Linked DNA regions of Homo sapiens. The protein of the gene in region 1 interacts with the protein of each later gene in a pairwise test. Each region holds a gene or a part of one and is shown on either strand. Other genes may lie near its edges.

Region 1 (2,889 bases):
CTGGGAGCAGCTGGGCCAGGGACGCAGGTGTCAATGGCCAAGGAGGTGGAAGGGTGGTGGGCCCTGTGAGAACACAGCTCTAGTCTCTGTGCTGGGCCTGATGACCTGCTTCAGTGCCATGGGCCAAGTCCTGAGGCTTGTGTATGTCATATAAGCTTATGATGTCACTTGACCATGAAGGCTCCAGCAGCTCCAGCAGCTCCCACAGCTCCCATCTGCAGGGCAGGAAGACCACCTGTACTGTGGTTTGGGAAGGCCCTTGCAGAAGCACCCAGCCAGGCCCATGCCCTGGGGCCACTTCCTCATCCCTGGCTACAGAAAACACGGGGCCTGTCCCTGCTGGCAGCTGCCTGGGGGACCCTCCATAATGCCAGATGTTAGCTGGTGGGACAGTTTCTGCCCCTGCTGGAGAAGCACTTAGGAGACTGCTTCCTAAGACTCCAGCTCAGCAAGGTCTAGGTTCTCATGAAGCAAAGCAAGCCTCACACAGCAACAACTGATGGTTTCCATTTTTTTCCTTTAATTTGGATGTACAATGTTTGCAGCAGTTAAAAAATTAAATATACATCTCTCGTCAGTCCTTCCCTTTGCTCTCAGAAGCATTCAGGTCTGGGTGGGGCTCCGGGACTCGCCCATCACAGCCCTGCTGGCTCCAGGGGAGCTCAAGCTCAGCTGACAGTCCCTCTGACCACGGTGCAAAGCAGTGAGACCTGGACAAGGAGGCCCCACTTGGGTCAGAGCCCACCCTCCGTAGGCAGGTCCACGTTGGCCACGATCCTCCAAGGCTGGCAGTTACCACCCAGATTGCAGCGGGAGACTCTGCTCTTAGAAACAACTGAGGGGAAGGCGTTCCTTTGACTGCACCAGAGCGTGACAGGCACATGGGGGAAGAGCGGCCCCTGAACCTTCCAGGTTGCCTTCAGTTGTCATGCGGCATTCTGAGCAGCTCCCTCCTTCCCAGGAGGCCCAGGCCCGGCAAGCGAGTGTCCTCGTCTGAGCCATCCTGAGCTCTCCAAGGTCCCTCAGCAGCTCTCAAGATCTTCCTTCTTCTCACTCCTACACGTGACCCCTCTGGAGGACAGCTCCAAGTCTACCCTGGCCAGCAGCTGTGGTCCCGGGTCCTCCCCGCAGAGGGAGGAAGCGGGGGAGGGACAAAGCCCGATGAGGATGTCTGCTGGGAAGGATGCTCACAGGTAGCAAGAGAAGCCTGACTCCACCCACCAGACACACAGAACTAACCTCACTCCACCCCGCAACGGGAGGAAGTTCCACCTGCCAGGCGGCCACACACCGAGTTATTGCTGTCTACTATCCGTCCCGAGCTCCACGTGGGGCTCATCTCAGCTCCAAGAGGAGGAGCTGTTCATTGGCTCCGAGGGCTCTGAAATGACCCCCTCCATGAAGATGGGGGCGAGGGGTGTCCTTTAGGGCACAGGGCCTTCTCAGATGCTACATTCTGGGTGTCTGGAGGGGGTTCAGCTTCACATTTTCCCCTTGAAAGGACACATGCGCTGGCAGAAATGAGGGTGGACAGTAACAAAGAGCACTTGGCAGCTGGAAACATCACCTACATAGACTCAGCTGGGCCCGCAGCGGAAGGGAGGCACATTTTGGGAAAGAAACACGCTTCAGTGCATTGCCAAACAATTCTACCCTGGTTTCATTAAAATCTTTCCCGATATTACCAGCAGGAAAACAAAAGCAATCTCCCCACAGCCCACCCCCAAAACTTGACAACCAAATTAATCACATTTGCAACAAAATTTGGATAATACGATGGGTGCTTGCCACAGATTTTTAGGAACATGATAAAGTCTTCCTCCCTTCTGCAGAGAGCTGATATGGAGACCATCTTCGCCAGTGGGATCCTAGTGGGCAATGAATGAGCCCTGCCCTGACCACGTCCCACGCCTGGATGTCCGTCACGCGGCTAACTTGACCTGGCGGGTCTAAGGAAAGTCAACTTCCAGGAAGAACCGACACGGGCACTCTTAGAGGCCATGCATCTCCGTCTTGAGAGGTGTGTGTGTAAAATTATAGATGTGTCTATATGCACATGCATGGATACTTTATGTATATGCGTGGGTGAAGTCATTTTTACTAATGAGCTCATATTCATCTCCGGAGCACACAGGCAGGTCTTTGGGGGTGGGGGACACCTACTGCCAGAGCGGGGTGTTCTGAGCCCCTTGCTAAGGACTGGTTTAGATCACGTCGTAAACAAGAGGAAGACAAACTCTATGTTGAGCCCAGCGATATGCATTCCAAGGGAATGGCTCTGTTTTACATTCACAGTGTTATTTCTTACAAATGTAAACATCTAGCCAGGAACAACATCTGGCCTGTGATACTGCTGTCTCAGAGCTGCTGACATAACCTGCGGGGGAGGCGGGAGGCGGGTGGGGAGCAGCCAACAGTTCTGAGAACTTTCCCCTCGTTCCCAAACCTTCTAGCGGGCTTTCCAGGAAAAAGCTAGGATGAGAAACAGGAGCCCCCAACCAATACGGAATGGTGATTTTCTTACGTGTTATAATTCAGTAGCTTCCCTTAAGGGCCTCCTCAAACATCGGACCCCTTTCTACCGCTCCTGCTGCCCCGCCACGAGGACGAGGTGGTCCTGGCTGGGGGAGGCCTCTGTTGGGAGCTGGTGGGAAAAGCCTCATACAGGCCTGGCAGAGGCTGCTCAGAGGAGGGGCTCCCTTTCAGCTCCCCCTCACGTATGTGGGCAGCATACAAGTCCACATCTCAGCTGCTCCCCAGCTGCCACATAGGAGAGGGACAGGTGGAAGCTTGGGGGTCTCAAGGCAGCACCTGCACAGAGTTCCAACATTTCCTCCACTTACCACATTCAATACCCAAAACATCGACGGGCATGACCAAACCAAGCCA
Region 2 (3,500 bases), on another chromosome or scaffold:
TCCTTGCCATGGTCCTGCAGGCGCCGCTGCCGGTGCTGTGACCAACCGGACTCCCCAGTGGCCAGCCCGCTGAGGAGGCTCTTCCCATCCTTGGCTCCGGACGTCGGGTCCTTTCCCTTGGTGCCCTAGAGGAAAAGAAGCTGGCTGTGAAGTCTCTTCCCATCTGCCCAGGCCATGATAAGCATGCCAGGAGTGGTCAGCCCTGGGCGGGGGGGCGTGGTGGGTTGGGGGCAGGTGGTTAAAATGGTGTTGGCTCAGCTATGTAGGTGAGGTCATAGTCAGCCCCTGCTATGACCTCCTCCTTTCTGTCCTCTACCCGTTAAGAGGACAGGTCACCTGCAATCCTCATCCTGCGGTATCTCTCATCTGGAGGAAGATGTCATCTTGATCTAATCGGAACAATTTAGTCTAGTTGAGGGGAAGGAGCCAGCACTTACTAAGTGATGACTAAGGCAGGCCGGGGCCTACGCTTGGTGTTATACACATTTACAAGCAACAATATGTTTGGGCAATCTAAAAATTATTTATGCAACAAGCAATCACCTCTGGAGGGAAAAGGAAAAGGAACACAGTACCCTCTCTTGTTTTGGGCCAAGTGTGGACTAAACCAGCTAATATTAACAAATACTGAGGTGTTTGAAAATGATTACTAGAAAACCAGAAATTTTTAACAGAAATTGTTGAAAACCCAAGGAATGTTAAGAAAGATAAATCGGACAGGAAATAAACCGGTATTTTCTGGCTCCTTTTCATAACAACAGTGATAGGGTCAGCTAAGTTATAGCAAGAGGGGATGAATTTGATCATCCCCACCCCACCTGTATAGAGAGAAGAAGTCTCCATTCTTAATCTAGAAACTCTTAAAAGGAGCTGCCACCCCCACATCTTTCCAGATTGCTGGGCAGGGCTCTCTTTTTCCAGCTTTTTACCCACAAATTGTGATGGCCAAACACCCTCACCCTCATTTTTTACACTCTTAGCAAAGAGATATGAATGCAAACAGCTACTCAGGTTTGAGACCAATCTTCTCAAGAAACCATTTCTACACAAGCCCTAAGTGAAGAGAAGAAACTCAACCAAAGTCTACCTGCTGCTTTCCAGTTCTTCTACTTGTTATTTTTTATGTCAACAGTAAATAATTTAAAATGATTAACATGGATTCCTTGGAATCCTGCAGCCATGTGAACAGTTAAAAGAAAATTTTAAAGGACTATTAGCTTACCTGGAACCAAACCATGACTAACCTGCAGGGTATTTACTATTTTTGGCCTGTTTATAAACTTCAAGTACTTCCGTGAACAAAGAAAGGATGGTAAACCTGTCTCAATCAGCCACAAACACATTTAATTCCAAGTATCAGAATTGTGTCAATAACAATTGTGTATGGGTCCTGGGAGGACAAAAGCCACGGAGAGGTAATGTCCACTCCTCAGAGTTTCAGAGAGATGGAGTGGGGAGGTGGCCTGTTGGAGTTGGCTGTCAAGGCTAAGATCTGGGGAGGTGGTAGGCAGTTGTGTCGTGTCCTGTTTCAAGACAAGGCTCTGAAACCCCCGTAAGAAGAAATCACTGAAAATGCAAACACTGAGCAGCCACATCACAGTCCAGGAGGTGCCGCTTCCACATTTTGTGCTGCTACATGTATGCCGTGCTCTACATGGGTCACAGGGGGATTCTGCCTTGGAAGCAAAGGTGGGAACTGTTACAGAGGGAGACAGGCACTTTATGGGCCCCTTCCTGCCTTATTCAGCCCCTCCACTGGATAATGGTGTCTTTTCCTTTTTCAGCAACAGTAAAGAGTGCTCAATCAATTGGTGAATATTGATGGAAGGAGGAGGCTTCGAATTCCTCTGGCTTATTTGAAAGCCACTTGTAACACTTCCCCAGCAGGAGCAAACAATAAAACACTGAGAAGTACAAAGGTAATACTTCCCTCACAAGTCAAGATAGCAAGGAAGGCATCTGGTACAGAGAAGAACTACCTTTACAATGATAGGGCAGTTTACGCCAAGACAGTGATGGACCTAAGCATGACCTATCAGATTTTGCTTTAAAGAAGAGGATAGGTTCTCCTTTCTCCTTAAATCTATGTTAATCACTGAATAACAAAAGATAATAATATATTAAAAGCTGGTGAATGCGGTTGTCCACAAAACTTTTTAATAAGTAGGTGAAGGCCAATTTGTGTCTAGCCACAAATGTACAAAACAAGTGAATGCTTACTGGCAACTGTTAATTTTTTAGAAATAAAAGGCTAAAAAATAAAAACAAAGGAAAAAGGGGTAAAGTCACAATGCTATGTAAGTAATTACCTTCAAACAAATCCATAAAACTCTGGCCAAGCACTTGTGTATGGGTAAAGAGCTGGAGAGAGTGAAAGATGCCGGCAGAACTGTGTACTCTCTAGACAATGACACTTGCACACAGAGAAGCTTGCACCCTTCTGGAAGCTTCTTCTACTGTGACCCTACCTTACACATCTTTGTAACCTTAGCACCCAGCACCACGCCTCGCATAAGCTGGGCACTCATTCATGACTGGCTAAATAACAAATGGATGGACTGATGGACAGATGAAATAACTGTTCATTGAAAGTTTTATTTCATTTTAAGTGCAACCCTCATAATAGTCTTTAACTGCTGGCTTCAAATAACAGAATATCCCAATAGTCTAAAGTATATTCTATCATAATCTACCTGACTGCTACAGTTCAGGAGAGACACGGTAACCTCTGTCTTATCATTTGACCTTCTCACTCTGGAGACAGACATAAGTTGATACCCATTAATTTCCGGTGGAATGAGTAGGTCATGAGGGATTCCAGAGCCTCACAGAGCTTACCAGGATGGCAGCCATCCAAATGGAGCAGCAAACAACTTCCAGTAATTTGGTCTCACCTGAAGCTAAACAAAGCTACCCAGAAAACACGCCCTCATAACACAGAAATCCCAGAATGAAAGACAGGCTTTCTCCTTACTGCCAAGATCCTTGGGGAAAACCTTCAGGGCAGTGGTTGTGACCACTTACTTCTCAGTAACTGGGAGGTAATTTGACACTAATAACAGTCACAAGCACAGAAGTTTGTGGATGCTTTGGTGCCTTACATTACAGCCGATTAAAAGTTATCTCTATAATGAGGTAATTTCCATGGCTCACCAAGTGGGTGTGAAAGGAGCAGAATTCTTGCTGGTGGGAAGGATGGAGTACAAACTACAGGCTGTGTGAGCCAAGCAGCAGCCCAGGCAAGCCTGCTATGGATGTGCCCTCCCGGCTATTGTAATTAGAGATCCTAGAAGGGCTTGGGAAGTGTGGTTTCGCAGTTATTTCCACTAAAAAAAAAAAAAAAAAAAAAATTGCCTCCAGACTCATATTGAAAGCCTGGAGAGTATCTGCCAGGCTTTCAATACAAAAGCAATCTATTTTGCATCTGTTTTGCCATCTATTTTACAGGAATAATGCTATGAACGTTTCAGTAATAATGACAACAGGTACAGCAACCAATT
Region 3 (3,500 bases), on another chromosome or scaffold:
CACAGTGCTACCAATGAGATGTCAGCAGTAGTTGTTGAGGGGTATTCTAGGAAGGCTTTTGCTATCCTGATATAAAGGGAAACTAGCATGCTTGCATGAGGATTTACCCTTCCTGCTCCATCTTGGTCTCGATCACTGGACCAAGGCACCCAAGGCTTATGCTCATTTTATCCAATAAGCCGTGATGAGATGTCTTGGGACTAAAACATTCACAACCAAGTTTCAAATAAAGAGGTTAATAGCTTGGCCTTCTGGTGTGGAATCAGGTGTGGAATATAGTGCCTATTGGGACCCCTTCTACTAAGTAGAAGTGACACTTTGAGATGTTATTTCTGTTTTGAGGGTTTATACACTCAAATCTCCAGCTGTCTCTATTCAAGTATATTTAGGACTATAAATGAGGGTCAGTGCAACTGAATCTTTTTTAAGGTCAAGTTGTTAATTTTCAAAGTAAAACAAAATTTTTGAAGTAGGAAAGGTGAAATGTTCATTTAGATAGCGTATTAGTCCATTTTGCATTGCAATAAAGAAGTACCTGAGACTTGGTAATTTATAAAGAAAAGAAGTTTATCTTGGCTTGTGGTTCTGCAAGCTTTTCAAGAAGCACTTGTCACACATGTCACCACACCTGGATAATTTTTAAATTTTTTCGTAGAGATGGAATCTCATTTTGTTGCCCAAGCTGGTCTCAAACTCCTGAGCTCAAACGATCCTCCTGCCTCAACCTGCCAAAGTGCTGGGATTACAGCTGTGAGCCACCATGCCCAGCTAGCTTTTACATTCTTAAATGGTTGAGGAAAAAAGGCAAAAGATGAATGATATTTCCTGAAGTGAAAATTATATGGATGGACACCAATGGCTGGGGGCACAGTGGCCTACACTTGTGATCCCAGCACTTTGGGAGGCTGAGGCAGGAGGATCACTTGAGGCCAGGAGTTCTAGACCAGCCTGGGAAACAGAGAGAGTCTTTGTCTCTACCAAAAAATTAAAATTAAGCCAGGCGTGGTAGCATGCACCTGAGAGCCTCCTCAGGAGGCTGAGGTGAGAGGATCGCTTCAACCAGGAGTTTGAGGCTGCAGTGAGCTGTGATCATACCACTGCACTTCATCCTCAGTGACAGAGCAATACCTTATTTCTAAAAAAAAGAAAAAAAGATTCTACTATACTGATGCAGTAATAAGAGCATTATTTTTTTTTGCTATGGTAATTTTTTTTTTTTTTTTGACATAGAGTTTCGCTTTTGTTTCCCAGGCTGGAGTAGTGCAGTGGCACAATCTTGGTTCACCGCAACCTCTGCCTCCCAGGTTCAAGCAATTCTCCTGCCTCAGCCTCCCAAGTAGCTGGGATTACAGGCATGCGCCACCACATCCAGCTAATTTTTGTATTTTTAGTAGAGATGGAGCCTCACCATGTTGGCCAGGCTGGTCTCAAACTTCTGACCTCAGGTGATCCAGCCACCTCTGCCTCCCAAAGTGCTGGGATTACAGGTGTGAGCCACCGCGCCTGGCACTATGGTATGTTTAAAAGAAAAACGGAGACATTAGCTTAGTTTACCCACATTGTACTTAGGTGAAATAAAAAATTGTTTATATCTCAGTTCAACAGTAGCATCTTTATGTATGTAACTAAGGTTGTGACAATAACACTTTACTTTCAGCATGCAGTGTCAGTATTCCAGGAATTTTTGGTCTTCTGTCTTTAATTGTTACTTTTTTAAAAAAGAAGCTTGATTGTACCACTGTTAATCATGTGATTTATTCTTTCAGCATCTACTGTGTACAAGGCACCATTTTAGCTCTGTGGTTAAAAGCATTCTTGATTGTTTATATGGATGGTAAAAATTATTCTTTAACTGCTCAGCTTTATGTTTTAGTCTTTAAAATTGCCAAGCGTAAACAGTGATGTTTTTACCAGATGTATAAGTGTTTTGGAAAAATTGGTTGTTGTTGGAGAAAAGAAGAACCATGTTTTTTATTTTTGTGCTATATCTTTGCAATGCACATGCAATTTCTTCTCCCTAGAATGTCCTTATAGATTTTTCTGTCCTTCTCAGGAGACTCCTTTTACACTTTAGTGTTTTATTATACTGTAGTTCCCGTCAGTGCTACAGCTTTGGAAGTAGCAGACTGATAGGGATGCTGTCCTTTGCAGGCTAGATATTAGACTCTCTCAGTAGTTGTAGATAATTAGCATCTGAGAGAGACTCACATGAGGCTGACCTAAAACTCAGTGATCAGAATGCTTGAGTCATCCCCCTTTTAAGTAGCATGGTACTTTTGGAAGAATTTTCCATCAGAGGACTGCTTAATGAGTTTAGAATCAGAAACAGAAATATAACGATCTGGAGCATGGATGTGAGATATTTCACTTAAGCTCTGGGAAAACCCAGTGTAATATTCCTACTTTACAACAACAACCTTTGTAGTAACCTGATAGGCTATACCTGTGAGATCCAGAATCTTTCTGAATGATGTTAAACATATACTTCATAGATTTTGCCTTTCTGAATGACTTTTAAGCTTTATTGAGGTATAATTGAGGTACATATTTTATGTATACATTTTGATGAGTTTGGGCATATGTATATACCCATGATATCACCGCAATCAAGGTTCTAAACATATGTATCACCTCCAAAAATTCTTTTATATATATATACACATACACATACATGATATATATGTTTTGGGGATTTTTTTTTTTTTTTTTAGAGATGGGGCCTCACTATGTTGCCTAGGCATGGCAAACTCCTGGGCTTAAGGGATCCCCCCGCCTCAACCTCCCAAAGTACTGGGATTACAGGCATGAGCCACTAGGCTCAGCCTCCTCCGAAAATTCTTATGTTTGAACCACATCTTTTGTCCTGGTTGCCCTCTTACTAGTTATTCATGTATCTCCTCCTCTAGAGATTGCTTCTTTATATTACTTAGAATTTTCCACAGTCTATAGCAAAATGCTTTGTGTACATTAAAAGCAATTAGTAAATATTTGTTAAAAGAATAATTATTTTAATTAAGAGGCATAGATTGTCTTTTCTCTGCATGTTTATATAATGTGATCATACAAAAATCCAAATATCTTATTTCTAATTATTTGTCAGTAATTTGTGACTTTTACCTAGTAATTTAGCACCTGAATTTCTACATATGAAATATGAATATAAGATACAAATTTTCAAGCCAGGCATGGTGACTCACACCTGTAGTCCCAGCTACTTAGGGGGCTGAGGTGGGAGGATCAGTTGAGCCTAGGAGGTCGAGGCTGTAGTAAGCCGTGATCAAACCGCTGTATTCCAGCCTGGGTGACAGAGCAAGACCCTGTCGCAAAGAAAAGATACAAATTTGTATCTTATATATTATCTGGAATGACTTTTTAAACATAATAAAAGTATTTTAGGTATTTTATAAGTACTTAAAGGTAATTCTGAAAATTTCTTAGACCATCCCCGTTAATTTCAGCTAGAAAAGTGATGATATAAGTTCACTTTGTTATGCTCATTC
Region 4 (4,210 bases), on another chromosome or scaffold:
AAATCCAGGTGACCGGGATCGCACATGTGTATCAAAACCATGAAGCTATGAGGCTTCCTCCCAATGCAACACTCCCCATCCCTCCACCCCCACCTAATTTTAAACCAGCCAGAGGAAGGATGCGATTATATAAGGCAAAACAGCGTTTATCCTACTTCCTCCAAATAACAAAATCAGGCCCGGGCGGGTAGCTCCCTCTCGCCCCAGGCTCCGTCGCCTGGCATTCTCAGGACCCACTACTCTGACCACAGGGTTCCCGCTGCCACCTCCAGGCCCAAAGCACCAACAATTCTTCATGGTGTTTTTTTTTTGTTTTTTTGTTTTTTTTTACTTTAAGTTCCGGGATACATGTGCAGAATGTGCAGGTTATAAACTCGGTTCTCAGAATTTCTGGTTCTTTTCATGGGAAGGTCACAGCCTGGGCCCGAGGTTGCCTTACCCAGAGCAGGGAAGCTTGAGCACAGGGCAGAGATGTTTAGAGGGGTAGTAGTCATTGCCTTTCCAGACCCACAGGCCTAAAGGATGGCAGGATTCCTAACCTCTGGACACTACTCCATTTAAGGCCTGTATCATTGGCTGGGCATAGGCGTAGGCTATGTACTCAATATTTGTTAAACAAATTAAGTCTTTTAATTTTCTGAGCCTCTACCTCACTGTCGATAAAGTGGGTAAGTAACACTAATCCCTCAATGTGGTCCACAGTACTAAAATTTTAAGAGTACCCAGAGCCCTGTCTGTCTGCCACCTGGTAGGTGATCATTAAATGGTCCCCAGCTTTTTTTTTTTTTTTTTTTTGGTCAGGCCCAAACTGCCGATTCCTCTCTGAACTTTGCTGAAATGTCCTCATCTGTTAAGAGGCCGGCTGCTGCCCTACAGAGGAGATAAGATAATACGGTGAAAAGTGCTATAAAGCACTATCCAAACTTGAGTTTAAATTCTTTGAGTCCCTTAATCTCCTCGCCCTTTGAATCTTTCAGAGTTTCTAACAGGGTGGAGAGAGACTGCCAGAGGGGACAGCCACTGACGCCTGGGTATATGGCCTTGTTTTGTTAACAAAATACAGTGCGTCTAGTCTTGAGGGCTGAATGATGTAAATAGTGAAAGGATCTCTCTCAGCTTTGGAGAAAGTCCCTCCACAGCCCCCACCCTCACCTTTCCTACAGGTAGGGGATGGCGTGGTGGGAAATTAGGGGGTAGAGAAACCATAAAAGCCAAGAGATAAAAGTAAAAGAGGCTGTAAAGGATGACGTCTCCAAATTGTAAAAGGACTCAGGGACCAAAAATGGATGCTGAAGCGGAGAATTCTCTGCAGCCTCAATTCTCAAGTGGGGTGCAGGTGCGGATCTCTACCTAGTCTCTCTGGGGAGAGGACGCAAAAGTGGTCAGGGCATATCAAACAGAGGAGCAGGGCGTGGGCAACAGGTGCCCCTGGCCAATCAGTGGTTGTTGGTAACCTGGGACAAGCAAAGGCCGTCTTCTTTAAAAGCCTCAGCGTCCACGTCTGAAAAATAGGGTAGTCACAAGTCCAGTGTCTACACTTGGGGGTTCTAGTGAGGATCTCGATCTGGTGAGCTAGTGAACATCACTCTGCAAACTCTCAAGCCCTGCTGGAATGCGGTTAATTATTACTGTGAGCCAAGAAGAGCCCGTGCGCTTCTGGCCCCAGCCCGCTCCCGGCGAAGCTCAGAACCTTGCCGGGGAGGTGCTGGCTGCGGAGACCACAGAGAGACATTTCCTCCCCGCACCAGACTCTGATGCCACCATCCCTGGTGCCACCATCCCTTCGTGGGATCCGGCTTCGACACCCGCGGGACTCACGAAAGAAAATGGTTTCTCCTCAATGTCTGGCTAAGCCCAGTTAGCTCATCTTTAAAATGGGGGCACAACTCTCAGGGTTGAGTTTTGAACCTGTCTCGTTCCTGGTACATCCAAGTGCTCACTGAACATGGATCCAACTCCTTCACTCCCCAGGCAGAGACTCCGGGGAACAGTGAAACAAAAACAAGCCAAGTGGCCAGAGCGCAGGGCCGAGGGCTGTAGAAACGGACCACCGAGCGACCCCGTAAACCCAGCTGGGGTTCGCTCTTGAAAAAACAATCTGTATGTCGAGGGAGTCTCAGACACACACAGCGCGGTTATTACCCAGAGGGTGTCTTGGATGCGGACGGCGCACTGGGCGCGCCGAACGCCCCGGGCACCCAGGAGTCCAGAGGCCCTGGGCTTGCTTTCCCGGGAGTGTAGCGCACGCAGAAGGGTCTCGGTACCCTCAGCCCTGGAACACCCGCCCCCCGCTCCCTCCAGTACCCCGCGCTACCTCCTACTCCTGCCCCGGCGCGCACTCACTTGGCGGCGGCGAATATCGGCCGGGTTCCTGCATCCACGCCGCTCCATCTTCTGAATTTTCCGACTTGACCGAGGCGGTCTCGAAGGGCTTCACCAGCGGCCCGGGGCTGTGCGCTTCCCGAGCGCCGTGCCCCGACAGCAGCAGTGGCCGCAGGGTGGCCCCGGCCGAGGCGCTTTCGGCCGGCAGCGGGGACGCCTCCTTGGGCGGCTTCTTGTCGGACATGAGCGCCTCCACGCTGAAGGGCAGGCTGGAGACCTTGACGCGGCGCTCCTCCGCGGCCCCCTCGGCGCCCCCAGGCCCCGGGCCTGGTCCGGCCACCACTGCTGGGCCCTCCTCGTCGGGCGAAAACAAGTCATTGCCTTTGGACGGAGAAGCCATGACTTCTCTGCCCTACGTAGCTCCCGACGCGCGACTCCGCTGGCAACCCGGCAGCGGCGACTCAAACTTTTTTGCTGCGGAGACGGGAGGGGCGCGCTGGGAGCTGAGCCTTTCCTCCGAGGGGAAGTGGGAGACGCGCGCCGCCAATCCGCGCCGGGCCTGGCGCTGACGCCAGAGACGCTCGCCCCTGATTGGCTCTTCCCGAAGGGGCTGCCCCCCCTCCTTTTTTTTTTTTTTTTTTTTTTTCCTGTTTGAAATAAATTAGGAGTTAATTACAGGAGCAGTCAGCAGAGTTGTTATTAGGCGATCCCTGAAGGGTTATAATCACGCCGAAACTGAAAAGCCCGAGACCTAATTAAGAGCGATTATTTAAAGCGGAAGTTCGCCGAGTCCCATTTCTTCTCTCTTTTGACCCTTCTTTAAAAGGGACCCTGCGCCCATCCCACTCTCCCTCTACCGCCAGAATAAGTTCAAGATTCGCAAACAGCATTGCAGAAACATTTACGAAGCCCCTACTATGCGTCAAAATTGGCTTACTTTACAGTTCCAGAAAGTCGGTGCTGAAACTCACAGGCCAGTATCCCTGTGAAAGAAATGTATGCACTTAGAAGAGTAACTCGCCACTAGCCAGCGCTCAAAAGCGCCCACTGTTATTATTACAACTCTTTCCCCTGGAAAAGAGGGGCCGGAAGGAGCCCGAGAAGTGGTCAGGAGTGCCTCTCTCCCAAATGGTTCGGAGTGAAGAATTTAAATCAGTTGTCCCCATCTCTCTCACTAGAAAGCAAATCCAGCGCACTTTTAGAAAGTTGAAATCTCTGTACTTGTCTCCTGAACCTCCTTTCTGAGCGCGATCCGGATCCGACCTTTTTCTCAAGACAGTGCAAGTGTGCATTCATGAGTTTGTTTGAGCCTGTGTTTGTCGTGCGTGTTTGAATGCCAGTGTTTGCCTCGGAGGGTAATGGGGGTGGGGGGGAGGAGGAAAAGTCGCCAATATCTAGTGCCTCCCTCTCGTTTGCAAGTCTCAGAAATACCGGCTTCCAAGTTTGCACACCCCAGGCCTACATATCATTTTGGGAAGCACATTTTTATTCATGGCACCTGGTTTTTTATAAAAACATAGATGTCTCCACCCCACCCCAAATTATACCCTCGGTAATTCCTTTCCAAAGCCTCAGTGATGACTGTCTCAGCCTGGGGAAGGGGAGAGCGAGCTTCGAGGATTAGAGGCCTCGGATCTCTCCGCTGGTCCTCAAAATGCCTGACCTAGAAGGTTAGCTTCAAAAGACTTTTTTCAGGCTGCGGCTGTCTTTTCCTATATCTGAACGATTATCCTGCGACTGACGAGGTAAATAGGAAGTCACCCAGTTCAGGACCTCGCCTACAGCAGATGCTTGCTAAACATTCCCTAGAGCATTGGAAGGGAGAGACATTGTTTTTAATTATTTAAATGACCAAGGCTTGGAGGCTACCTCCCAGTTCAGGAGTATT

Evidence for each region. Proteins that work in one complex are often made in the same cells at the same time.
Region 2: the proteins of HTT (region 1) and WDR91 interact in binary tests that used the Homo sapiens proteins (3 or more experiments, as listed by UniProt).
Region 3: the proteins of HTT (region 1) and KLHL20 interact in binary tests that used the Homo sapiens proteins (3 or more experiments, as listed by UniProt).
Region 4: the proteins of HTT (region 1) and MSX2 interact in binary tests that used the Homo sapiens proteins (3 or more experiments, as listed by UniProt).

The regions. Positions count from the first base shown.
Region 1 is NC_000004.12:3,241,569-3,244,457, reverse strand, and holds the end of HTT (huntingtin), read right to left. Parts: 3' UTR 501-2,889; downstream 1-500.
Region 2 is NC_000007.14:135,198,027-135,201,526, forward strand, and holds part of WDR91 (WD repeat-containing protein 91), read right to left. Parts: intron 126-3,500; coding exon 1-125.
Region 3 is NC_000001.11:173,721,481-173,724,980, forward strand, and holds part of KLHL20 (kelch-like protein 20), read left to right. Parts: intron 1-3,500. UniProt on the Homo sapiens protein: Substrate-specific adapter of a BCR (BTB-CUL3-RBX1) E3 ubiquitin-protein ligase complex involved in interferon response and anterograde Golgi to endosome transport.
Region 4 is NC_000005.10:174,723,172-174,727,381, reverse strand, and holds the start of MSX2 (homeobox protein MSX-2), read right to left. Parts: upstream 2,801-4,210; 5' UTR 2,723-2,800; coding exon 2,344-2,722; coding exon of another isoform or gene 2,318-2,343; exon of another isoform or gene 2,315-2,317; intron 1-2,314. UniProt on the Homo sapiens protein: Acts as a transcriptional regulator in bone development. Represses the ALPL promoter activity and antagonizes the stimulatory effect of DLX5 on ALPL expression during osteoblast differentiation. Probable morphogenetic role.